Regions from separate parts of the Homo sapiens genome. Here regions 1 and 3 are each linked to region 2. Evidence: fine-mapped expression QTL. A gene starts in region 2. Each other region holds a variant in brackets. All regions are shown on one strand. Distances are from middle to middle.

What was found. PIP is the estimated chance that this variant, and not a neighbour inherited with it, causes the effect.
Region 1: its variant is fine-mapped to the expression of TNIK in skeletal muscle (GTEx, PIP 0.99).
Region 3: its variant is fine-mapped to the expression of TNIK in whole blood (TOPMed, PIP above 0.99).

What each region holds. Positions count from the first base shown.
Region 1 is chr3:171,170,871-171,179,054 of GRCh38, forward strand. TNIK (TRAF2 and NCK interacting kinase) reads right to left here. Exons shown (of 33, transcript NM_015028.4): 8 at 6,456-6,510; 9 at 4,382-4,460. Among named protein-coding and RNA genes, the nearest start is that of MIR569, 68 kb to the left of the region's middle. RefSeq lists a silencer at 3,205-3,274. The variant C/T (reference allele first, on the strand shown) is at 4,555.
Region 2 is chr3:171,455,478-171,463,661 of GRCh38, forward strand. It overlaps TNIK (TRAF2 and NCK interacting kinase), which reads right to left and starts at 4,928. Exons shown (of 33, transcript NM_015028.4): 1 at 4,530-4,928. The coding sequence starts at 4,586. LOC124906303 (a long non-coding RNA gene) reads right to left here and starts at 2,694. Exons shown (of 2, transcript XR_007096168.1): 1 at 2,469-2,694. LOC102724479 (a long non-coding RNA gene) reads left to right here and starts at 3,741. Exons shown (of 3, transcript NR_189068.1): 1 at 3,741-3,914. RefSeq lists a silencer at 4,558-4,617 and an enhancer at 5,629-6,129.
Region 3 is chr3:171,058,546-171,066,729 of GRCh38, forward strand. TNIK (TRAF2 and NCK interacting kinase) reads right to left here. Exons shown (of 33, transcript NM_015028.4): 31 at 8,031-8,184; 32 at 7,642-7,781; 33 at 1-5,419. The coding sequence ends at 5,336. Among named protein-coding and RNA genes, the nearest start is that of SLC2A2, 36 kb to the left of the region's middle. RefSeq lists an enhancer at 3,125-3,703. The variant CATTT/C (reference allele first, on the strand shown) is at 4,221.

The DNA of each region.
Region 1 (8,184 bases), 280 kb before region 2:
CAAGACGGTCTCTTTATAAACAATAGAAAAAAGTAGCTGAGCATGGTGGCATGCACCTGTAGTTCTAGCCACTGGGGAGGCTGAGGTGGGAGGATCATTTGAGCCCAGGAGTTTGAGGCTGCAGTGAGCTATGATTGCACCACTGTACACTAGCCTGGGTGACAGAATGAGACTCTGTCTCTAAAAAAAAAGAAATCCTCATTTCTGTTGAACTAAGTAAACATAGAGTTCTTTAAGGGAATTATTTCACGTATGGGTTAAATAGCTTAGCAGGAGGAGTCAACTGGGCTGTTATCTCCAAGAAGCCTGCACAAACAGGTTAATTTTTAAAGTCTGTGTAATAGTTTTTAGCTGGATTTTAATAAAGTCCAAAGTTCAAAGTCACATTACTACTAGAATATTCAGTCTAGTAGAAGGAATTTCTGATACACACACACGAACTTTGTCCTATCTCAAAAGTCTGACAACCCACCAAGAATCAGAACTGGTGCCTCATAAAATAACGGGGGTGATTTTTAGCCTTGGAGCAAAAGCAGGAGGCTGGGTCCAGGCTGGTTCTCCCAGTAAGGAGGCTAGAACTCGTGCAAATACACCACTTAGCCTCACTGGGCCTGCACACCTGCATCTGAAGCATGAGTGGCTTGGACCAGTGGAGCTTGTACATATAAGCAGTTATGATTTTTCTAATGACCTCAACTGAGTGCTGCTTTGCCTGTGTGGGCTCTTCAAATTTAAAGGGCACATGAAAGATTCACTGTCTTATACTTAATGGAGCCATTCCTATCCTTCTCCAGAAAGTCCTGGAGGGAAGCAGTGACACTGAGTATACTTGCGAGGGCAGGTGAGTGTGGATGAGCAGGGTGGCAAGAGAAGGTAGGAGAAAATCTTTTGAAGGAGATGGTTTACCCCTGCGAGTGGAATCTACGCACGCACAAGAGACAGGAAGAGAGAATGGGTATCCCAGTCTTGCTTTTCACTTGCTGGTGCTGATATGGAGGTAGAGGGTGAGAGTATCTTTGGTTTCCTCTGATTCCACAAAGGTTACAACCCTCCCAGACAACTTATTATTAAATGGCTGAGCTGCCTGAACATTCAGTGGTGCCCTAACTTCATCATCCCATACCACAAAGGCCTCTCCTCATCATACCAATAGGGAAGGAAGAACTGGGCTCCTGTGAGTGGTGGTGGTCTCCTTTCCCTCCACGATGACAGTGGAAAGAGCAGTGCCACTGCCTTTATTTCTCAAATCTTGAAGGTACAAGTTAAAAAACAAAAAAAAAGTTCACACTAAGAGACCAGTTTATGCCTTGTATGTTGTAGACTCAGTCATGTTGAAAATGATGCTTTATTGAATGTTTGCCATGAGAAGAGTTCATGGCCCTGTCTCAACAATGGCGCCCCCTTTGGTCAGGTGTTGATATATACACTGAGAACAAGGCATTTAACCCGGTAACTCATTTAGGTAGAGAATAGCTGGAAATAAAAGAATGTTTTGGAATTTTGTCTCTTGGTCGGGGGAGGGAGTCTTTTCCTCTTAAATAATTAAAATAAAAAACATAAACAAAATGTTTCATTTCCTCTCAAACACTAGAGTCTATTAAAGTAAACCCTAACTTACTTCAAATCACTTTGGACCTGCGCTTTCAAGATAAAATACTCTGAAGTGTTTAAATATTTTCACTTAAAAACTGGTGGAATTGTATTGCAGAGAAATGGGAGCCATGTCTGCTGTCAAGTATCATGTGCCTGGAGGCTGCACCACCACCTCTACAAAGGCTGGGATCGAAGTGTGAAATGGCACATTATCAGGGCTTTTGTTTCCCCGGTCTCTCTCTAGCAATCAGGTTACTTTTCCTTTCCCTGTCTGACAATATGGGACTTGTTCCCATAGCTTTCCTACTCAGTTTTCCTTACACATCAGGGAAAGGTGTGCAAGGTGGCAGGATGAGATGAAATTGGCCTGGACTTCTCAGTGTTTCCAAACTTCTCCTGCTCCCTCCAGCATTATTAAAATTAGTTGTTGTCAAAGGTTTGAAGCCGAAAAATCAGACTGCATTGTCCTAAAAGTTTGTATTTCTCAAACAAGGTCAGCACACCGTTGATCTTTTTTGGGTCTCAGTCGGTGAAAACTGACACTGTAGGGCAAGGGCTGTTCACTCACTTTTCTGTGGGGTCAGGTAGGTCACAAAAAGGGGTGGTGTAGACCATGGTTAAGATGAAAACAGGAGATGTGGCCAGGCGCGGTGGCTCACGCCTGTAATCCCAGCACTTTGGGAGGCCGAGGCGGGCGGATCATGAGGTCAGGAGATCAAGACCATCCTGGCCAACACGGTGAAACCCTGTCTCTACTAAAAAAAAAAAAAAAAATACAAAAAATTAGCAGGGCATGGTGGCGGGCGCCTGTAGTCCTAGCTACTCAGGAGACTGAGGCAGGAGAATGGCGTGAACCCGGGAGGCAGAGCTTGCAGTGAGCCGAGATCGTGCCACTGCACTCCAGCCTGGGCGACAGAGCGAGACTCCGTCTCAAAAAAAAAAAAAAAGAAAAGAAAAGAAAAGAAAACAGGAGATGTATACTAACCAACTGACACCAGCTTCTGAGTTGGGGGGAGGTGGCAGCTGGAGGAGAAGGACAATCACTTGTCCTAAATGGGAGCAGCAGCTAGCATCTTTGCAGGCAGTTCACTGCATCTTTGCAAGAAAAAGGCCAGAAATCTAAATGTAATGCTCAATTGACAGATTTTTAAGTGTTGCCAATTAATACACATATTTTTAAAACAGGGTATATGACCATAGTGTGACAGCCAAATACATTTGTGGAGGGCCAGTTTGTCCTCCTCTGTGGAAAAGCTCAGAATACGTGTCCTGCAGCAGTAAAGGGAGACAAGGAGAAGATAGGGCAGGGAACAGGGTAAGTAAAGCCCACTGTATACACCAGACTCAGCTCAGATATCAAGCAGGAACCTAGCAGAGGGCTTTGTAGTGTCACTGTCACTTCCAGGGAAGAGAACTGCGCCAGTCCCTCTCCCCGGGAGTCTGATCCAGGGAGAAGAGAGGAAGCAGGGTGTTGGGGTGCTTTGCCGATCACATGATGTATGACACCCAATGGGAGGGCTGTTGCTGGGGAGAGAAGGGTTGTCTTGCACCACAATGACCCTCTGCAGAGGAAGGAGGAGCAGGGAACGCTCTGCCTCCTTGTTACCAATAGCAACTCTCACTCCCCTCGCAGGGCCCGGCAATTCTGAGGCTGCCATCTCTTTTCTGGCTGTTTCCTTCCCTCTTTCTGTGCAGTGTGCCCTTTCCTCTGTTCCACCAGGGTGGCTCTCATTAGTAGATGACTGGTGGTAATTAAGGCTGCCCCCTGTATGGTAGAGGTGAGCCTGTGTGTGGGTGGGTGGGAAACATGAGGACCCCAGTCAAGCGCCTGATCATGAAGGGCTATGGAAAGGGGCAGAAGGATCCTGTCCCTCATGGTCTCACTGCCCAGGACTTATCTCTAGAAAAAGGATAGGAGGTCACAAATAGTGCAGGAATTGACCTCAGACCATGAGTAATCCGAGATTCAAGAATGTATCAGGGAGGATACACCATTTCCATAGGAAGAAAGGAGGAAGCAATGAATTTTGGTTATGGAATAATAAGATAGGAAGATCCCAACTATATAATTATCCCCAAAAAGTCAAACATCCAACATCTGGCTTAACCTGTAGAACTGTTTCCCAAATGTCAGTCAGTCATATCCTATCAACATAATTTTTGCCGTACCCTCACACCACTCATACTAGTATTCATGTAGTAGTTTCCTTTAAATTAAGCCACTGTTTTATGTAAGTTTATCAAAAGGAAAAGTTAAATCGCTGCCCCAAATAAGAAGCCAGTATCACCTGCCATATGTGAAAACAGTAGTAAAAACAAAAAAACTGCAAATGCTCATACACGAGCCAGAGAAATAATCTCAAACATTACCTGGTATGTATATGCACTTAGGGAATGATTGTTGTAAGGAATAGAAGAGAAATCAGCCAATCTAACAGGCTGACTCTCTAAACTATCACCCTCTCTGATAAGCTGTTCTGTGCTGCCAGGAAAGATATGACTTGGAGTTATAGATCAAAGAGCTTTCATGTTATTACTTGGCTTCACTTACCCATTTTGGCTAATAATTTCTTACCTTAAAGGTGGGGGAATAAAGACCTGCTGTACAAACAGTAGATACTCAATATATACTTTAAGATGAATGACAGCATATGGAAAGTAATTCACCAAGTCATCATACATGTTAGTCTCATTCTATCAGCAGGACCTAGGGATTAGAGCTAATCCAAAATAGAATCACAAGAAAACCTCACCCTTAGATCTGCGAAACATCGAAGACCAAACTCACCACTTCTTAGACTTCAGCCGAGGCGCTGGGTTCCGGGGGATGAGGAAGAGAGCTCTCATGGGGTGCATGTCACAGAGAGCTGCAAGAGACCAAAACAAGGGCCAGCTACAGTTAGGAGGCCAAACCCAGGCCAAGCCCGTCTTGGCTGTGCAGATAATGGCTGCCCAATGACC[C/T]ACTCAGTTTACACACCACCAGTGAGCACAAAGTCAGAATATCCAAATGCTTCTGAGCATTTGAAAGATCCAATATCCACTTACAGGAGTCTCATAAAATACAACATGGTTCACATAGCTACTGCTAACATTTCTAGTGAATACATGTTTACTTCATATTTAAGGAAACTAAGTTAAAGGGTCAACAACCAGCCATCCTTGCTGTGAATGACCACCTGACATTTAAAGTAAATACCATCAGATGACAACTACAATGGAGATGGTAAGCTATTTTTAATTAGTAAAAGCCTAAGCCATAAATAAAAGGCATTTCATTATCCCGTCTATTTCTTACACGTCGACAGCTCATCCAAATGCAATTGTTATCTACACAGATTTTTGGAGTCCAAAACACCAGCCCCAGAGCCCCATTTTCTCTGTTTCCAGATATCCCGAATGGCTTTTCAGGTTTCGTAACGGGTTTTGTTTCATTTTGTTTTTAAATTCACTGGCCCCAGGAAGCCCAGAGGATTAAGTCACACAGAGTCTGGCAGAAAAACAAAGTTATAAAAAGATCTCATCTTGTAAACATGACATTATCGTTTATAGTGAAAGCACTCATATGTTCTTATTTTAATAAAATATTTTATTAGTTTACTTTTCAAACATCTGGGAGAATTTCTACTTTGTAGCTAGAATAAGAATATATGCTCCCTAAAAGCCAAAGGATTCTGTGGGCAGAAGTTTATTTTTAGCCCTGTCTACCACTCATCAAGAATGATAATATGGTTTAAGACTGCAATATATTATTTTTCTGATTCACACATGCCTATTAGCATTGTGAATGAGGGCAATTTTGTCAACCAGCACTCCAAATCAATCATGCTACAGATGAGTTCTACCAATTCTAGACTGGGAAGTAAGAAAACGATGACAACCCGAAGGTAAAAGTCATAAGTATAATGACCTGTCGTGCAAATAAAGGGCCTATTTTTGTCCTAGTCCTTTGAGATGCAGACACCAAGGATATTACTGGGTAAATTACTATGTGAATGGAAACAGGGAAGGAGCCAGGCAGTATGGGAAGTCATCAGATTGCTATGCAAGTCTGACCCTGAGTGAAGGAGAGAGGGAGAAAAGGTAGGTGGAAGGGTCCCAGCCTGTCCTGCAGGTCTTGTAAAGTCATAGGGGATTACTTGGGTGAAAGTTGCCTACAAAGGAATCTTGTGTCCTCCAGGAAAGGGCCTGCCTTAGTATCCCCACTGTGCTAGGTCACTGGCGGGGAGTGGCCCTTGAAAGGTGCGGCCTGCTGCCATTGCAGCAGCTGGGGCTGACAATCAGTTACACTTCCTATATGGAAGTCTGTGAGGCACAGTCTCATGACAGAGACTCTCTGCTGGGGCCAATACTCCAAATCTCAAGGAACTGAGATTCTCAAGACTGCTGGAGCCCTAGCCACTCTGTCTCAAATAGCAGGGAAATCTAAAATTTTAAACATCAGTATTTTAAGAGGAGTGATAGCCATTGAGTGGAGTCTTTGTATAACCTGTGCACTGAAAATTAATTTTGGATTTTCATACATTGGAGTTTATAGTCTTGTGAGTTGGTCACAGTTTTATGTCAGGTGAGGAGTAGTCCAAGAATAAATGATGTACAGAATCTGTAAAACAAACAAGACTCCCCAAAGTATGCTTTCTTTTTCTTCCTTTTTTTTTTTTCTAATAAAAACAGGATTCTCCCACTGCTCTGAAATGAATGGATTCCTGGTTGATTTAAGATGACTCTGCTTTCTAAATATGCCAGCTTGAATCCATGCAGGGCTCGGTGTAGTGGAAGTAAAGCAACTGCAGCTCCTGGCAAGGAAACTTCAGTACCTGCAGAGCAGACCAGCAACAGATTTCACCCCAGAGGAGGGTACTTACGGGGAGCACCTTCTGCCATTTCAATGGCGGTGATACCCAAAGACCACAAGTCACTCTGAAAAAGAAGGGGCAGACACACACATAAATTCAGTCAACAAAGGACAACTTGGTTAAACCTGGTAATTGCTTCAGAACTTCCTGTGAAAGTCATTCAGTTTTCTGTTTACAAACCTATTTCTTCCACTAACCTTCAAAGCAGAAACAGTCTTACTTTTCATTGACAGTACCACTCATGGTGTCTGGCACATGGCAGCTTATCAATAAATGTATGAAAAATGAATATAAACAATTTTAAATTAATTCGTTACTGAAACTTATCTGTGGGTTGAACCATAGGAAATTGCTGCTATTTGACTGTTTATAACACCATCATTGAGCTATAATTGTCATATAATAAACTGTACCTAAAGTACACCATTTGATAAGGTATGACGTAGGGATCCTCCTGTGAACACATCATCACAGTCAAAACAGTAAACATACCCATCATCCCCCAAAGATCTCATTTGCCTCCTTCCTTTCCTGCCTGAACCCATCCCCACTCTCCTGTCCCTAGGCAACCAATGATCTGCTTTCTGTCACTATGAATTAGTTTGTAACTTCCAAAGTTTTGTATAAGTGAAATCACATCATATGTGGTCTTATGTATTCGATCTGTTTCACGTAGAATAGTGTTTCTGAAGTCCACCCATGTTGTAGTACATATCAGTATCTCACTCCTTTTTATTGTTGTGTAGTATTCCATTCTATGGACATATCACTGTTTTTGCATTTGGACTGTTTCTAGTTTGGGCTATTACAGATACAGGTGCTGCAAACATTGGTGTACAAATCCGAGGGTGTATGCTTTTATTTCTTTTAGTTAAATACCTGAGAGTGGAATGGCTGGATCAGATAGTAGGTGTTATTTATATTCAATTGGTTTAACTAGAAAAACAGCAATTTCATATGGTTTTACCTAATAAGATGAGGACAGGGAGACTTTTTGATGATGGCATTCACTGATGTCTCTCTTGTGCTTAGATCAGAGTTGGGCACAGTAGGAGGTACTCAAAGTATTTGTTGAAAAGATAAACAATTATTGCCTATTTTGTGAGTAGACTAGTATGTAACAATAGAGGCCAGTATACCTTTATATTATTTCTTATGCTCAGAGTGACTTTTATTCTCTGAACAGAATTTTCTAGGCTAATGCCTCCATTTCTACCTGTACAATCTCCATCTCTAACAATATTCTCCTCCCATACTCTGTCTGTGGCTCAGTAGTCTCTAAATATTGCATGAGAGGGGGAATATCAAGAGATGGGGAAAACCTGGTTAGAAAACACCAAGAAGAGGCTTGCTGCCTCAGTTTCACAGCAGATTGGTAAGAAAATCTAGTATCAAATTTGGTTCAATGGCCCACATCCTAATATAGATATTTCATTTTAAATACCTCATGCATTTTGTACATTTTTCAAAATTGTCTCAGATTAGAGTGATCAAAGGTAAGTTTCCTTGCTATTGCCATCAAACAAATGTCAAGGCCACATGAAAAAGAGATGTAACTGGAAGAGAGCTTCATAAAATTCATAACCTTCATGCTGAGTCACTCCCCAGAACTAAGTTTCTCAATATCCTGTGAAATGACACTCAGGGCTCTTCAGTAATTGGGCAGAGGTCTGCACAATGTGGAGGGGGTTTTCTAGGGGGTCTAGCCTCTTGCCTAAAGTGCAGTCTACCTGAGAGC
Region 2 (8,184 bases):
CAGTCCTCCCACTTCGGCCTCCCGAAGTGCTGGGATTACAGGTGTGAGCCACTGTGCCCAGGAAAGATAATTTTCTATTAGATAAAATCATTGCAATCAAATGTTGATGGTATCAATTTTCCCACTAAATTCTACTTAACCATGGGATAGCATATTTGTACAGTGCTGTATGGTTTTTAAAGCATTGCCTTAAATACTTTATTGATTTTGAAACCAGTATGTGAGAAAGGCAAACAGTTGTGATGATTCTTATTAACTATGGTTAAATGTCCTACCCAAAGTCACAGAGTGAATAAGAGGTGGACATAGAACTGGGGAGACAGGGTTCATTCCACTCCATTCATTCAAGCATTCATTCACGTACTCATTCATCCAACTAATGGAGACTATGGCTCCAAAGATGAACAAGATCTAGCCTCTGCCCTCAAGAAGTCCACGGTTTAGTAAAGAAGCAGAAAGGAAATCACACACCAAGTAAAACATGAGCATGAAAAGTGTAGCAAAGGGATGTATGCAAGGCTTTCAGATGAGGTCAATTCTTAAATCTGGGTTTCAATGGAGAAAGGAATGGCTAGGGAATGAGGGCTAAGGGGAAAGACAAGTGTAGATCATCTAATTTTGTTCAAATACAAAAGTGTATGTGAGTCCTGGCAGAAGCTGAGAGTATGAGGTCAGCAGCAGCCAACTCCTGGCCTTGAATGCCTTACCCTGTGGGCCAAGTTAAGGACAGCCAAGGTGCTTAGGTCCAGAAATATGCTAATCTCCAAAAAGCTTTCTGGGCTGAGCTCGCCTCATATGTAATAAAGCACACTGGTGGCAACTTTCATCTCTTTTAATACTGAGATGTCTTGAAGCAAGAATGACTCAAGCCCCAGGTTTGAATGAGTAAATTGTTTGCTGTAGCCTATGTATGTATACACACATTTTCATACACCCACGTGGATACGGTTTATATCCATAATACTACACATAATATATGTATCCACATAGATAATACAAAACATACACACAACTCTATAAACCTCACATGCAGAGCCATCTGAATAACATGTATGTTTATACTGACCCCTTGAGACATGCTCTGATGGACACAGGTTACTCAGAGAGGTTACCTGTGCAGGACAACCATGTGTCCTAGGTGATTTCAGACAGTCGTTTGCCTGCAGAGTAGGCATTGAACCAGGGCTGGACAAGATGAATTCCAAAGGTGGCCTAGAGCTCCATGGTTTCATGTATCACAAGCTTACTTGCATGAAGTAGTTTCGCCATTCTCAATAAATAAAATTCCCTGACCCTGGTGAAATTATTCCTTTCTGCTATTCTTTTGTACTCAGGCAGAAAATGTATTATTGATTTCTGATTCCACCACAGAAAGTGTGACTTAGAGAAAAGAGCACTGAATGAGGAGTCAGGAAATCTAGATTATTTCCTCAAACCACGCTCCTCGCTGTCCCCTCCCCTTGTTACTGTGTGACCTTGAACAACTTACTTCACGCCTCTGGGCTTCAGTTTCCCAAGTGTTCAATGAAAGGAGTGGCTGAGTGTTCTACAATTCTCTTTCCAGCTCTGAATCTATAAAACAATTCCAGCCCATCCCTCAAGATTTAGTTTATCTCTGAGCTCTAAAAATCAGGGCTAAAACTGGATTCAAAGTACCTATTTTCTAACCAAAGAAGATCCTGCTTCACTCACTTTTAAACCATGCAAATCTTGCATAATTTAAATGATCAGTGCTGTCATTGGTTGCTCTGGTTTAAATTATGCATTGTTGCTATTTGGGGAAAATTTAGACTGGGTCCGGTCTGGAATCACTGGCTGAGAACAATAAGCCCCCAAAGTGAGAAGGATAAAGGCCTCTCTAGACAGGATCTGCTTTTAATGCTTTGAGCCCAGGGTTTACAAAAAGAGCATTGACTGTGTACATTAAAGAGCCACCGAAACAGCGAGGGACTGGTAAGTCTGCAGCAAATTCTCCCAGAAGCCACTGACCTTGGCTGCATTTCAGGGGTCAGGCATTCCCCAGGAGGGGCTCAGCAGGCAGACTTTACCAAGGGCTTAGGAACAAATGAGACATCTCATCTAGATGAGGCCACCTCTCCAAATGTGGCAAGGTGGAGATGATCTGCCCTCTGATTTGTGGAGATTACCTATGTGGCCTTTGGACCCACTCCAGCAGACACACCTCACCCACAAGACTGGTCAAAGACCCTGGCCCTCCAGGATATAACTGTCTCCACATCTGCATCTAAGTCTTCTAGCCAGCAGTTCCTGGTCCCCAAGCTAGCTGTTGCCCTCTCTGTTTCCACACCTCCCAGCAGGCAGAAAAACAGAAGCAGAGCCCTAAGCTGATAGCCCAGGCCACAAAGAGCAATTTCAGTGAATTGTGCAAAGATATATTTTCAAAATACAGATCACAAGAAAGCACATCCCAAGTGTGAACCGCAGTCGTCCGCCCAGTGGGCCCTCACCGGTTGCTCCCCTGCCTGCAGGCTCCGTGCTTGGTATCTCAGAAAACCTTCCCGAGGAAAAAGCCCATAAGGGACAAGTCCCGGCCCAACTTAAAATCACATCAGACTGCTTTCCAGTAGAGGAGCAAGGTCGAGATTCCGGCCCAGGGAAATCACCGCAAGCCCTGCGCATTGTTCAGACCCCTTCCCCCTTTGCCACTTCCCGCCCCCCACCCCGACCTCCGACCGATTCGCAGCACCCCACCCCCAGTCGGGGCCATCCATCCACCTGATTAACTCGCCGGCAGCAACTCCCAGCGTAGAAAGTAGGGCAAATGAACACACACAGTCGGTAAAGCAGGAAGCCACAGACCTGGCCAATGCACCCACCCTGTTACCAACCCCACCCCGCTGCGCAGGGGGCAGCCGGTTCTTGATGTGGCATTTCCACTCCAGGGAAATAGACAGCTTCCTGTAATAATGCATGAATGAGCTTTGGCTGCCCAACTATCAGAACAGCCCATTTCAAACGGCATCTCTGTTTCTTCTCAACTCCTTACTTGCCTTGCTGAAACCTCATCTCTTAGCCCAACAGATTAAGACGAAGAGAGAAAGACTTATTCAAAGAGATGTGGAGGAAAAGGTTTAATTAAGGAGACCAAAGAGAAAGTACCACTTTGATCACAAAGGTAGCACTTTAATATATCAGTGCAGATAGCGGCAATGTCAGAAGTACTAGGAATCCAGGTAAATGGCCCCAAGATTCAGCATCAATCTAACAATGTATTCCTCAGGAGGGCGTGTGAACTTCCATGCTTCATCCATCCTGGTGTCTCCCTGTAGAGAGCCACCATGAATTCCTTCTCATCCACCCTCCATACATCAAGTATATGCACTCGCTTTCTTTTTAATTTTATTTTTGGTTCGGGAGAGGAAGAAGCAGTCCTTAAATTGGTGTCCAATCCTTCTCAGACACCCGCTGCTGCCACCATCCCCACCCCTCACCCCCTTCCAGGCAGGCAGCATCTAATTAAAATGGCAAGAAAGCTCTGCCCCCTTCCCCAAAGGAGTGTGTTGGGATCGGGAGTTGGGGGTGGGGAAGCGTCGAAGCAGCACTTGGATTCCTGGTATTCTGATCTCAAAACAACAGCAAAATGGATTCTATATCAGTGATGTCTTAGTCAATACAATGAAACGGCGTCTGAGGTAATTCACGTGAAGGTAAACGCAAACCAGTGGGGCTGGGGGGAGGGAGGTGCTCTACAAAGGACTGGCCACAGACACGGGGAAAACACACACAGACACACACACACACACACTCGCACACACTCCAGGGAGTTCCGGTCTGATTGAGGAAAAGCAGAAAACACATCCCTTTCACCTGCTTAAGTTCAGCCATAAAACTGAAACGTTACAGCCACAAAGTCAGAAAGAACAGGCAGGGCTGAGTTAAAGCCATAAATAAAGGTGAGTGGCAGACTGGCATTTAAGGGAGCGCTGAGAGGGCGCCCGGGCGCGGGAGGTAGAAAAGGGGGAGGGGGAGGCAGTTGCCATCTACAAGACCAGCATAGCAATAACTGCCCCCTTGGAGCGGCAGGTTCGGCTTCGCGGGGACAGCCAGCCTCACAATGTCATCTTGCAGGTAGCTGGAAAACGTGAGGGGCCAGTGCCTTTATTCACGCTGGCATTCTTTTTGCAGAAGGGACAGTCGGGTCTCGCGCCTTGGCACCAGACAACTGCCCGGGGCGTGTACACACACACACACACACACACACACACGCACACACGCCTTTCATTTTAATGCTCTTACACCGGTATAAGATGAAACTGGCATAAGCTCTACGAGCCCTCGGGAGAGCCTAAGCCACGGCCAGAGGAAGACACGTACCGCACAGCCCCTGCCGTAGGGGCTCAGCCAGGAGCACCTCAGCAACCCCGAATCAAAACGGGAATCCAGGTTCCCTCCCCGACGCATTCTCCCGCTGCTGTCCCCCTGCCCCAGCCCCAGCCCCCAGTCCACGCACCGAGCCCATTCACCCTAACCCAAACCACTGGAAAGAAACCAGAAAACGTCCTGCTCACCCTCAGAGCCGAGAGATCTATTTCATCCAGGCTTCGAGCCGGGGAGTCGCTCGCCATGTCTACTTCTTCGCTGGAGAAATGGACCAAAACCACCCCGAAGCTTTTCCCTTGGAAATTCCACCTTGGTCTATTTCACTCGCGTCCTCATGCGGGTGTCGCGCCAGAGGCCCCGGGCCCAGCCTCCCCCGCCCACCCCAGCCCCACAGCGCCGGATCCCGATCCTCCGCGCGTCGGTCCGCCGGGTCCGGGAGCCCAGCCTGCGCGGATCTCCAAGCCCCGAGCAGCGGTGCGTGTGGGCTGAGCGCCCCGATCGGCTAAGGGCGCTGGGGCTGCGTGGGTGTATTTAAATGGGACATGCTTCTTTGCTTGTGCGTGGATGGCGGCTGCATTGGCTGTTATAATGAGACACATCAACTCCTCCACTCAGCAGGGGGAGGGTGGGGGTGGAGAACCACGCAGAACTGTCTATCACCGCTTCCTGGGAGGAGTGAAGGGGGAGTGGGGAGGCGGAGGAGGCGTGGTCTTGGACTGGGGAGAGGCCGCGCTTCCTGACCCGGTCCCTCTGCACCAGCGTGGAGGGGGGAGGGGCGCGCACCCTTTCCGCCCAGGCTTTTGCGGGCTCCTCGGGCCGAACCCGAAGGGGCTGTTCCTGAACCTTGACTTGTTATCATAGGGACCCAAGCTCTATTTTTGTGTGGCCAATTCGTGCACTGCAGCAAAATGGCCCTTCAGTCGCGTCTTGGGGTTTCTCCTCGGTTCAAATGCTCTCGCGCTGAGAAAAAGCCGGAGGAAAAAAAAGCGACACCCTCCCTCCCCCATTAATTATTTGTGGGGCCGGAGTAACGCGGGCTGGTGCAACCGGTGCATATAAGGACTTGTGTGCAAGGAAGGGGATCCGCCTCCAGGCGCGGAAAGAGTAGGGAAGAAGCGCACACGCACAGTGCACCCAGCTGGGCGCTTCGGCAGTTTGCAGCTGCGGCGGGGTCGGGTCCACCCGCGGTCCCCGGAATGCCGGACGGCTGATCCCGGGTGCTGGTCACTCGCCGATTCGGGGCTGGGAAGGTTTGCCAGAAGCGGGAAAGATGGGAGATCTGAGCGCTCTCTTGGCATCGCCACACCCAGGACTTGCTCGTGCCGCAATTCCCCACGGAAACAACCGAGTTGAAACGAGAAGCTTGCTCTCTGGGTGCAGTAGCTAGAAGGCTTCAGGTAACTCCAAAGCCAACACTGGGTGAGGCAACACACGCCGCCTCAGGACTCAGCATTTCTTTCAGGCTGCGTTTTCGTGGCAGACCTACCCAGATTGATGGAGAAAGTTTGGCTGGCGGATAAGAAGTAACGCGGAAGATGTGTACGTGAGAGCGATTTCACTTCACTCACTTTCTCATTTAAAGGTTGGATGTTTTACAGTGGTATACATGATTCTCCTTCTGTAATCAAGAGTGGGAAGTCGCTTCCCCCAATCCCCGCGCAGCCCTTCTTCTCCCGCCTTAGCCATGCAAAATACCTAGAAAGAAAACACTAAAACTGAACTTTTTTCCAAATACAGCAGTAGCTTTGAAAGCATTCTTTGCTCCTCTGTTAACAGCAGAATGTAATTCTGACCACTGCACTGATGGTTTCTTAATCATGCAGTATGAAGATCAGCTTCAAAATAAGTCTTATGAATGAATGAATGAAAGCCAGTGCAGTTAGTTCATCATGACTGCAGACATTAGAGGACTTTGAAACAACCTTTGGTGTACATTGTACTGTTTTTGTTACTGATATTGTATGTATTCATATGCATTGTGGATCATGCACCATGAAACTTGAAAATTGTTCCAACATCTCAATGGCCACAACAGTTTGGTAGCTTTTGCCTGTAAACGTTGTATGTAAACATTTGAACGTGTTATACTAAATTACTAAACTCATTTTTTACTAAAATCATCTGGTTCGACATAGTAAGTAACGTGCAGTAAGCCACCACGTCGAAATGAAAAAAAAAAAACAGATTATTTCCCATCATTGTCTTTGTTTTTTTCTCTTCTGTGTTCCTGTTTTTTTACCGTTCATCTAGACAACAGGTTAATGTATTGTCTCAGGGTTGAAAGAAGATAATTTAAGATCAAGTATTAAGATCTATAAACAACTATTTTTTTAAAACTGCAAACATAAGGAAATATGAGTTAAATATTTTTTCCATGGAAAGCCTTCGTTTTATACTCATGATTATATTTGAAACATCACAAACAGATCAACTTTTTTGACATTAGTGAGCTGTTTGGGCCACGAGGGTGCCAAGTTGGCATTCAGATTTAGTTTAGTTTTAGATGAGAAAGTTATAGATGCAGTATGATGCCAGGTGCTAAATGGAGGAGGGCTTCCTAAGAGCCTGAGAAGTTGATGAGACAGCCAGGGGAAGGCAGGGGTGTGGGCTGCAGGAAATACCATAAAAGGAGAGATTGCAGTATCAAAGGGACCTCCAACTGGTAAAGGAAGGTGAGAAGGAGGAACTTGAACTTTTTCCTTTTGGTCAAGTGTGTATCAAATTTCAGCTATTCCAGTATAAATTTCCTAATTTTTTCCTATGTCTCTGTATTGCCTGTACTATTTTACCACTTACTTAACATTTTTCTTTAAATCAACACTTTTTTCTTACACTTAATATAAAAGAAAACATAAATCACTACTCTAAATGGAAAGCCAACAACACTTGCTTTGAAAAAAAAAGGGGGGAGGAAACCATTAAAATAAATATAATGGAAAATAAAGAAGTATTATTAAATTCTAGCTAGCCATCAATTCCTGCTCTGGGCTTCTAGCCTAAGGCCTACTCTTAGTTTGTTAAAAGAGAGAATAGCAAATACCAGGAAAAACATTCAAGACTTGAGATTTTTTTCTTGATGTAATCTGAAGGATTAAGAGAACTGACACCATTTATGTGCAGTTTGAAAACCTGCCGAATAATACACTATGCTGTTTACATATGTATAAATATGTAGTAAACTATATAAAGCATGGATACAGGCAGTAAGGATACAGATTAACTTCAGGATAATGAGAAAAGAGGAAGAGGAAAAGGAGACTCCAACAATGATACCTAATTTTTTTGCTAAAGATTTCTGCCAGGCACGGTGGTGGCTCACACCTGTGATGCCAACATTTTGGGAGGACAGGTTGGGAGGATAGTTTGAGTCCAGGAGTTCGAGACCCGCCTGGGCAACTTGGTAGAACCCCATCTCTACAAAAAATACAAAAATTAGGTGGGCATAGTGGTACACCCCTGCAATCCCAGCTACTAGGGTGGCTGAGGTGGAAGAATTGCTTGAGTCCGGGAGGTTGAGGCTGCAGCAAGCCAAGATAAGCCACTGCACTCCAGCCTGGGCGACAGAGGGAGACCCTCTTTATAAAAATGAATAGAAAATTTGAATAATAAGTAATACTATGCTGCAGATATTTTTCTAAGCATTTGTTCTATCTGAATGTTTGTGTCTCCCAAAATTTATGTGTTGAAACCTAACCCCCATAGTGATAGTATTAAGAGGTGGAACCTTTAAGAGGTGATTAGATCATGAGGGCAGATCCTTCATGAACTGGATTAGTGCCCTGAGAAAAGAAGCTTGAGGGAGCCTGTTCGCCCTTCCACCACATGAAGATGCATAGAAGGGGC
Region 3 (8,184 bases), 400 kb before region 2:
CTCAATGATTTTTGTATGCAAGAAAAAAAATACCTGAAAGTAACCAAAAGTTTCAGACTGGAAAATATGCCAGGAAGATTTTCTTCTCTCATTCTCAGGTGAGGTTATAATCCAGTTTTAGCAAATGTTTGACAATTTAAAATACTTTTGAAAACTGGAGATTTAAAAAATGTAAACAATTGTAGGCACAGCAAAATCGTAGTTTTCCCTTCTGATATTATACATTTGGCATCTCTCTACAGTTATATTAACATAAATAAGGCAGCTAAAACGTTCAAAAATAGTTTTACAACATTCAATTTTAAAATTTCATTCAAGCTGTAATCTTTTGTTTCCTGCTGCCACCTAACATTTGAAGTTTTGATTCAGGGTAATGTCCAAGGTTTCTTAAACATACCATAATAAGTATTACTATTCCTTAACATTTATCCCAGGGGAAGAGATAAGGGAAAGGGGTAGCTGGGCATGATATTTACAGTGTACAAATAATGATCCATTGCCAGAAATGAAAACTCACCTTTCCACCAGCATTTGCTCAGCCTCAATAGTGCAATGCAACTTGGTGCTGATAAAAATAAACCATTAAAACCAAACCCTATCATGCAAGGAGTGAGTTTGAAGATATGTACACAAACTCAAAAATCTGTAAACTTTAGGACATTTTTATTTTTAACTGTATTTTCTACTTTTCATCCAAACATTTGTCATCATGGACTCAGAAGAATCCAAGATTTTGATCTAGATTTAAAATAACTCAAACATTACCCAGGGATTTTTGTTTAAAAATGCTTTTATGGGGATTTTTATTTTGGTATATTCTGGCACTTCCTGGAATGGCAGGTCTAGAAGAATAAAGTCCAAAGCACAGGGTTATGATCTCACACTGTTTAATGCTAAGCAAACTGTTGAATATTCTAGTTATCAATGGAAGAATTCCCAGAATAATGGTGTAGAAATAAAAACAACCTAGAAAATGTTTGGTAGGAATATACAAATTGTCAGTTTTGAACTTGCAAATTCTCAAGAGGTTTTCTTCTTTGCTGGGACTCCTGAAAAGTGATCAATTTTACACCCAATTTATTTAAGATCCATGAAAGGACAGCTTACTTTAGGGTTCCTGATATATAGTGACCAAGGAGATATAGTGGCATTTATGAGAAATATTAGCAGGTAAATTAAATCAAATTTAGACTTTTGGATTTTAGATTTATGTTACAACTATGTAGTCTCAGGGGAGGTCAGTTTTTGGTTGGTTGGTTATGTTTTGCTTGATTTGGTTAGATTTAAATTTTGAAGAATGAACTAAAAGGTAACTAACAAGTTAGAGACTGTTGAAATGATCAGAACATGGTACCAGTGGTGATTCTGGAATATAAAGAGCATAGTAGCATCATTCAGAATTGTTATCAGCATGCTGTGGATTTTCTCATGTTTTCCTGCAGTAGGTTAAAATTAAAAGTTTTATCAATAACTATTTTTTTTCTTAAAAATAATGTAGCACATCTTACATCTTAAAGCAATCAGCACAAATGCAAGTGATGCCTGTTCAAGCAGACTTTCAAAGACAGCACACACTGTTAACACAAAGAGCTCTTCCACGTTTCAAGAATACAGTGACGGGAACTGGTACACATAGTAGTAGGGAAAGCATTTTTTTAAAAGCTTCGTGGAATGTGAGACTTTAGCCCCTTCCTTTCCTGGCAGTGGATAAAACCAAAATGGTTCTGGCTGGAATTTCACATCTTTCTAATAATCTACTGGACAGGAGGGACCAGAGACACCAATTACCAATGAGTCACAAGAACAGACAAAAATTGTTAGTAGGTTTTGACAACCAGGAACTAAGGTGTTTTTAAAAAACATGTACTTGATGCAAAGTATATTAGGAGTGCACCCTAGAAAACAATGTCAAAGTGTTAGAAAAATGGAGCCCCTGTCCAGGTGACCTTGTGAGATTTCACCCATAACTTAATATACCCTGTTTAATAAAAATAATAGTTCTAGGTCTTCTTGAAGGATTGTTTAGAAGTCTCCAAGAAAAATAATGAGATCTATCTAAAATAGAGCTGTTCAATTTTATGTGGAACTTAGTGAAGGCTGTCTTCATTTGCATTGTGTGTTATGACAGTGGTCTGGCTGGAACTGGCAGGGGGAAGAGCCTCATTATTTGAAGGAACTTCACTGGTCATCCATTCCTACCACCACTGGATGCAGGAATCCATGCTACAGTATCTTTGACTGGCACCCAGGAATGATGGTCACCTGCCAGACCCCAGACCCAGACTATGGTGTGGGCAGGCTCAGTAGATTTTACTGGATGATTATTAATTTAGAGCAGTAAGAACTGGCAGATCTAGTGAAACTTACTCTGAGGGGAGGGCTCAGTTTCTCCAGTTTCTCTTTGTAGGAAAATAAAAATAAAATGAGCCAATTTCTAGAGACAAAATCACCTATAAAAAGATCAGAACTGAAGATTTTTTTTGTTGAGATGCTATAAAAATGGATGAAAAGCAACCGTTCCTCCCCTACCCCCAAAAAGAATTAAGGCAATTCAGAAAGTTTGGATGAGCCACAAGGACACCATTCTGACGTATTCTGCATGTTCTAGGCCTCCTTATGTCAGGGCTGGGGTCTGTCTTGCTGGAGGAAAATTTATTTTTGAAGATAAAAGCTTCAGTGAATTCTTTAAATATCTGTCTTTTAAAGAGCACAGATTTCTGGGGGGCCCATTTAAATTTGGATTTGCCTTGTACTCAGTGTAAAATATTAGTACAAAAATATAAAAGGCATGGCTTGATGTTTAACGTGTGTTTTATTGTTGTTGGCACCAGAAAAGCTCATGTTCTATGTTATGTCACTGTACATACTGTAAACAAGACTGCATTAATATTGTTTTCTTATGATTTGTTTCAATGACTCTAGATTTTAAAAAATACATTCACAAACTACCTTATGTTTAAACACAATGATTCCCTTTTATTTCTTAACTGTACCCAAAATCCCACAATAAAAAAATCATTTAAAGCTGTGTGTTTCAAACTTATCACTTAGAAATAAAAACAAAACAAAACATAAAAACAAAGATCAGTTTGCAACATAATTTAAAGAAGCTTCTGGTTTAAAATACCACAGCAGCAATATAAAGAGCTGGTGGCAATCACATTCGGGAGTGAAATCGAAATCAATATATTTTGTCCACATCAGCATCCAATTACAGTAGTTGTTAAATTCAATCCAAAAAGTTATTGCTGAATTTGTGGCATGGAATTTGAGAAGATAGTATTGTTCAGCAGCACAACCACAGCAGTAAAAATGAGAACAGGAGGATTTCATTGCTTTTGAGAGCTAAAGGGACCATGAGGAGGATATCTTGCTGATTGCCTGAAGATAATCCTCAGTTACATTCCTGCATATTACCTGCTTTAAATAAATGCAAATGACAACCACCTTTTCAGGAGGGGCATAATAATGTAATCCAGAAACTAGAATGTTTCCCCTTCTCTTCCCCATCTTGCCCAAACCACTAGATTGAAATGGCTCCATTTTCCTAATGTGTATTTCGTTCTCATTAATAGTACATCAGCTGCTTGTGTATTTAGGCAAAGTCAGTAAGATCGTAGTTTTTTTTGTTGTTGTTGTTCCATTTACAGTAATTATTTTCTCCAGAAACAAGCCACATTAGTTTTTGTCATTGGATTCCCCCCACTTCCAATTTTTTAAGAAGAAAAATTTGGTCAACTACTGTTTCGTTTTAAAAATGTTAAATGCACCTGAGATTGCCGGTTGAGCTCTCTATATGTCTCCTGGAGATAACACTGCTGTGATGAACAGTGAAACAAAAACAAACAAAACGAGGTAGGTTAAAACAGGAAGCGCAACACAGATATTGTTTGCAACACCTCGATACCACAGGCGGCCATGCTTGTAGCTTTGGAAAAAAAAAATCCCAGTCGCATAAAAGTTCAAATCATTTGAGTAAGAGTTTATAAGGACACAAGTCAACCTGAACTAAATACATACATACTTCTGCACAAATGTTGTTTACCGTATGTTGGGTAATTTGGAGGAAGGTAAAGTGATTAGGGTCTCAAAATTTTGTCCAAAGCCTTGCTTTCAAGTTCTCTAAAATTGGAGCCAATGATGCCTCTTGTATCTGAGGCAGGCTTAGGAGTCTAGTCCCTTCTCTCACCCACACAGGGAGAACACAGGCAGCTCAGAAA[CATTT/C]ATTATTAATTTTTTCAGTCACAGTTTTCATCTTGAGAAAGTGGCACCCTCGGGAGAGCGCTGGGAATGTTCAGAGCCTGAATATCATCCACTCTCCAAGTCCCAGAAAGAACTCAACAAAGTCTCAGTCCTAATGAAGCCCAAACCAAGTGACCTCTTAGCTGGGAGGCTTTGTGCATTTTAAAAAAGACTATGTAAGCTTGTTTCCCAGAAGCTCTTTCTGTCTGACCCCATCTGTCATCCCATCTTTTTCCCTGATCTGTTGCATAATAGCTGAGGGAAAGTTGTGTTAGAGTGTCCCTCCATCGCTAGGCCAGCTCAACTCAATGGCGTTAGTATCCTGTTCAACACACTCCATTCTGTAAAGGGCCATATAAAAATGTGGCCTGTCAGATTCACAAAAGTGGTAGTTGATTTTATTAGACTAGTAGTTTTAAGGCTAGTAGTTTAGCCATTTAAAATCTATTTCCCAAAAGAGGGGAAAACTAGTATTTTTCTTCTCTTTTTAAAAATTCATTAGCCAGTTGCTATCAAAAAGCAACCTTTTGGGTTGGTGAAGGCAAGAGAGTTCTTAAATTACTCCACTATGTAGTTATGGCCTTCAGCCTAAGGAGATAAGGTACATTTATTGTGCTGTCTCTCATCATTGGAAATTTTACAACATACCATATACTTAAAACTAGTAGGCAGACAGAATTTAAAAGACTCATTTTCGCAGTATGCATTCTTTCCCCATTCTTGCAGAGTAAAGGGGTAAAGAAAAAAGGTAAAAACCTGAAAACCCACCATAACACAGCTTAATCGTTAAGAGCACACAATATTTGTTTCTATCCCTAATTCCGAAGGGCACATGGTCCATCTTTGTCCACAGACAAGGCAGCATTCTTGGGGATCTCCTGGAAATTCCTGCCACCTTTTTCTCTCCTTCTCAACCAGGCTGCAACATTGAAAGATGGACTGTACTGGGAGGGGCGGAGGGAGAGGAAAAAGGGAAAGCGATATGTTCAACCAAGCCTTCTGATTCTGCCTCTAGACTGGCATAAGTCCACATGAGTTATGTTCTTTTAAATTAGAAATAACGCCATGAAGATAAGTGCCAAGTGCTCTTCTGTTACCAGTTCATCATGGAATTTCTGTTGAGGGTCATGAAAAACACTTGGCTACTTCCTCCAGATCGCACGGATGCAAAAAATACCTGTTTGAAATTAAAAAGAAGTTAGTTCAACTGCATGGTCTTTTCCCCTCTTTTCTTCAACCGTCCATCCATTTTCTCTCACATGTCCTATCCTTGCCATGTGTCAGGTCTTAAGACTCAATGGCTTGTGTTTATAAAGTCCCTTTGGATATCGTGCATCCTATGTAAAAACTCCTGCCTTTATTCCTAGGTTGTTATTATTCCTTATTGTGGTATTGGTCTCCAGAGATGCTGAAGGGGCTATATCTTCATTTGTAACATCTCTTTGGGTGTTCACTTTTTAAAAGGGAGTTTCATGCTAGGATAACGTGCTGGATTTCTGGTCTAGGACCCAACAGGTTCTTTGTTAATTTCTAGAAAGGCACAGAAGCTTCCCTTCTCTCACCCTTAAATGACAAGAAAGTAGACTTCAGGATGGAAGGGAATCCCTTCAAATTCTCAAAGTCAAGGGGGAGTTTTAGGCCTACTGACTATCATACAGTTTCAGATTTCAGTTTTTTAAATTTAAGATAAAAACATTAAATAGTGTGGTCAGATAGGGCAAGGTATTTAATGCCTACTCATTTTGGCATTTCAAGAGTTAACGCATGGTTTCTCTGCTGATGGTGGCATATCCCAGGGCAAATGAGATCATAGCATTAATGAGGAGAACCACAGTCCATTAGGTCTGAGTCTGTTAAGTCATTTTATCAAACAACTGACAAACGTGAGAAAAATTTGGGTTACTGCTTGCTTGAGCTGAATGTTTAATGTTAAAGAACCACTGCCCCAGGAAAGTAATATTTTGGGCTATGGCCTAGCCCTTCAGTCAGTCAATACCTAACTTTTGTTAGGTAGTTGCTTTTGTCACTAGTCTAAAGTCTCTGCTACTTCATTTCTACAGCTTCTTCAGAAGAATGCTAACAACAACTTCTTAGGGAGGTCTCTGGAAATGCTTGACATTCACCTAATGCTGCATATGAAAGTAATGCTACTCTTAGGGTCAATGAATCAAAACGGAGAAGGACAGAGAGGGCCTATGGAAAACCACAATGAAGAAAAGAAAGGGCTGCTCTTCCCTCCAAGTTGTGTGCCCCTGGCTGTAAACCTTGGGTTGCAGACAACTGGTGTGGCCCCAGCCTACTCCTAAGGGTGTGGCATGGCTTGGAACAGCCCTGCTGGGGTAGGTTTTCAATCGGAATGTGGGTATCCATACCCAGATCACTCCTGGTTTTTTGATTCTTAGAGACTGGGTGGGAGCTGGAGTTTTACTAGGTTATGTTTGTTTTCTGGGAAATCTAAATGGCTGGAACCATCTTTGCCACCTGCAGCTACTGTCCACCCAGACCACATCAGGTCAGAGTAGTGGGCCAGGGTTGAATATAGTTTAGGCCCACATCACCAGGTTTGGACTAAGACCAACCTGACCTTTGGGGAACTGGGGTGGACAAAGGGATATACAAAAATTCAACCCATCATACTGTTTTTCTATAGGCGTTTATGTCTGTGGCTTTGGGGACAGCATTTCTATGTTGGCCACAGCCACAAAGGATGAATTCACAAATGCAGTATGGCTTAGCTACTAAAACCTCGGGGTTACTCTACAGGGAGGGTAAGGGAGAAGCAGTACTGCTGCAGAATACCCCTCTGAGGTCACTGATCATGCCAGACGGACACAGCCAATTTCACTGGAAAACAGTTCACCTATGACATTTCAGAAGAAACATGGCTGGAATGACACAAGACATGGCACTAGTTGAGTTTGTGATTGTGCATTCCTTAAGGAATGGGTGACATTTTTAAAAAGCTTATATTTCTAAACGTCAAATGTTTTGGATTTAAAGGTGAATATAAGGTGATTGGTTAGGTCTTGAAAGTGACTTTGTGAAAAGTCTAAAAGTGGAAGTATAAAGTTGACCCACTGTGAGATGATTAATGATGGGCCAACTGCTCTAAGTGCTTAGGAGAATTTGGGGTGTCTGCTGAGTCATCAAAAGGCCTTTAGGCCACAAAGGTTTCTAAGAGGTTTACAAGAAATTTCTAAATGTTTTTATGTAGTTTTTGACATGTGAATAATATATTGAGTGCTCACATGGATCAAACCAAATAATGCCATTTCAAGATAATATTGATTGTTTAACACAGATGTGATTCAAATCAGTATAAAGGAAAATGAAGGTTTCACAGGTACCTGGTGGTCTCTTAAAATGCAAACACTAATGCAAATGTTGAAACGGATTTACCTTATCATTTCTTTCACATAGAAACTTTAACCTTTGAGCTCGCTTATGCATAAATACTCCATCCAAATGTCCTGTTTCCACTGACCGGATCTCAATAGCTTTCTCGCCCCAGCCCATTATCTGATTGGAATGAATGTAGGCTGTCAAAAGGAATTTCCAAAACTGCATTAAAAACATTAGATGGGCAATAACTCACAGCATCTGTTCACATCTTAACCACAAAAATGACAAACGACTTGAGATAAATGGACAAAGCAAGTCTTACAAGAGTTATTCACAGATTTTTTTTTTTTTTTTTTTGTGGAATCAAATGGTTGTTTCACATTTCTTGATTTTCGTTTCATTTGGGGGGTGTAACTGCTGAAGGAGATAAGGAATGGTTAACCTACCCACAGACGTGGGCATTTCTCCCCATTGGAGCACCACATCCTTAGTTATCCGGCCATAGGTGTTTACATACACCCCCTCATCCTCATAGCAAACAAGCATTTCCATTCCATCTGTTTTAGGCAAGATGACAATAGCATGAGGAGTGATATTGCC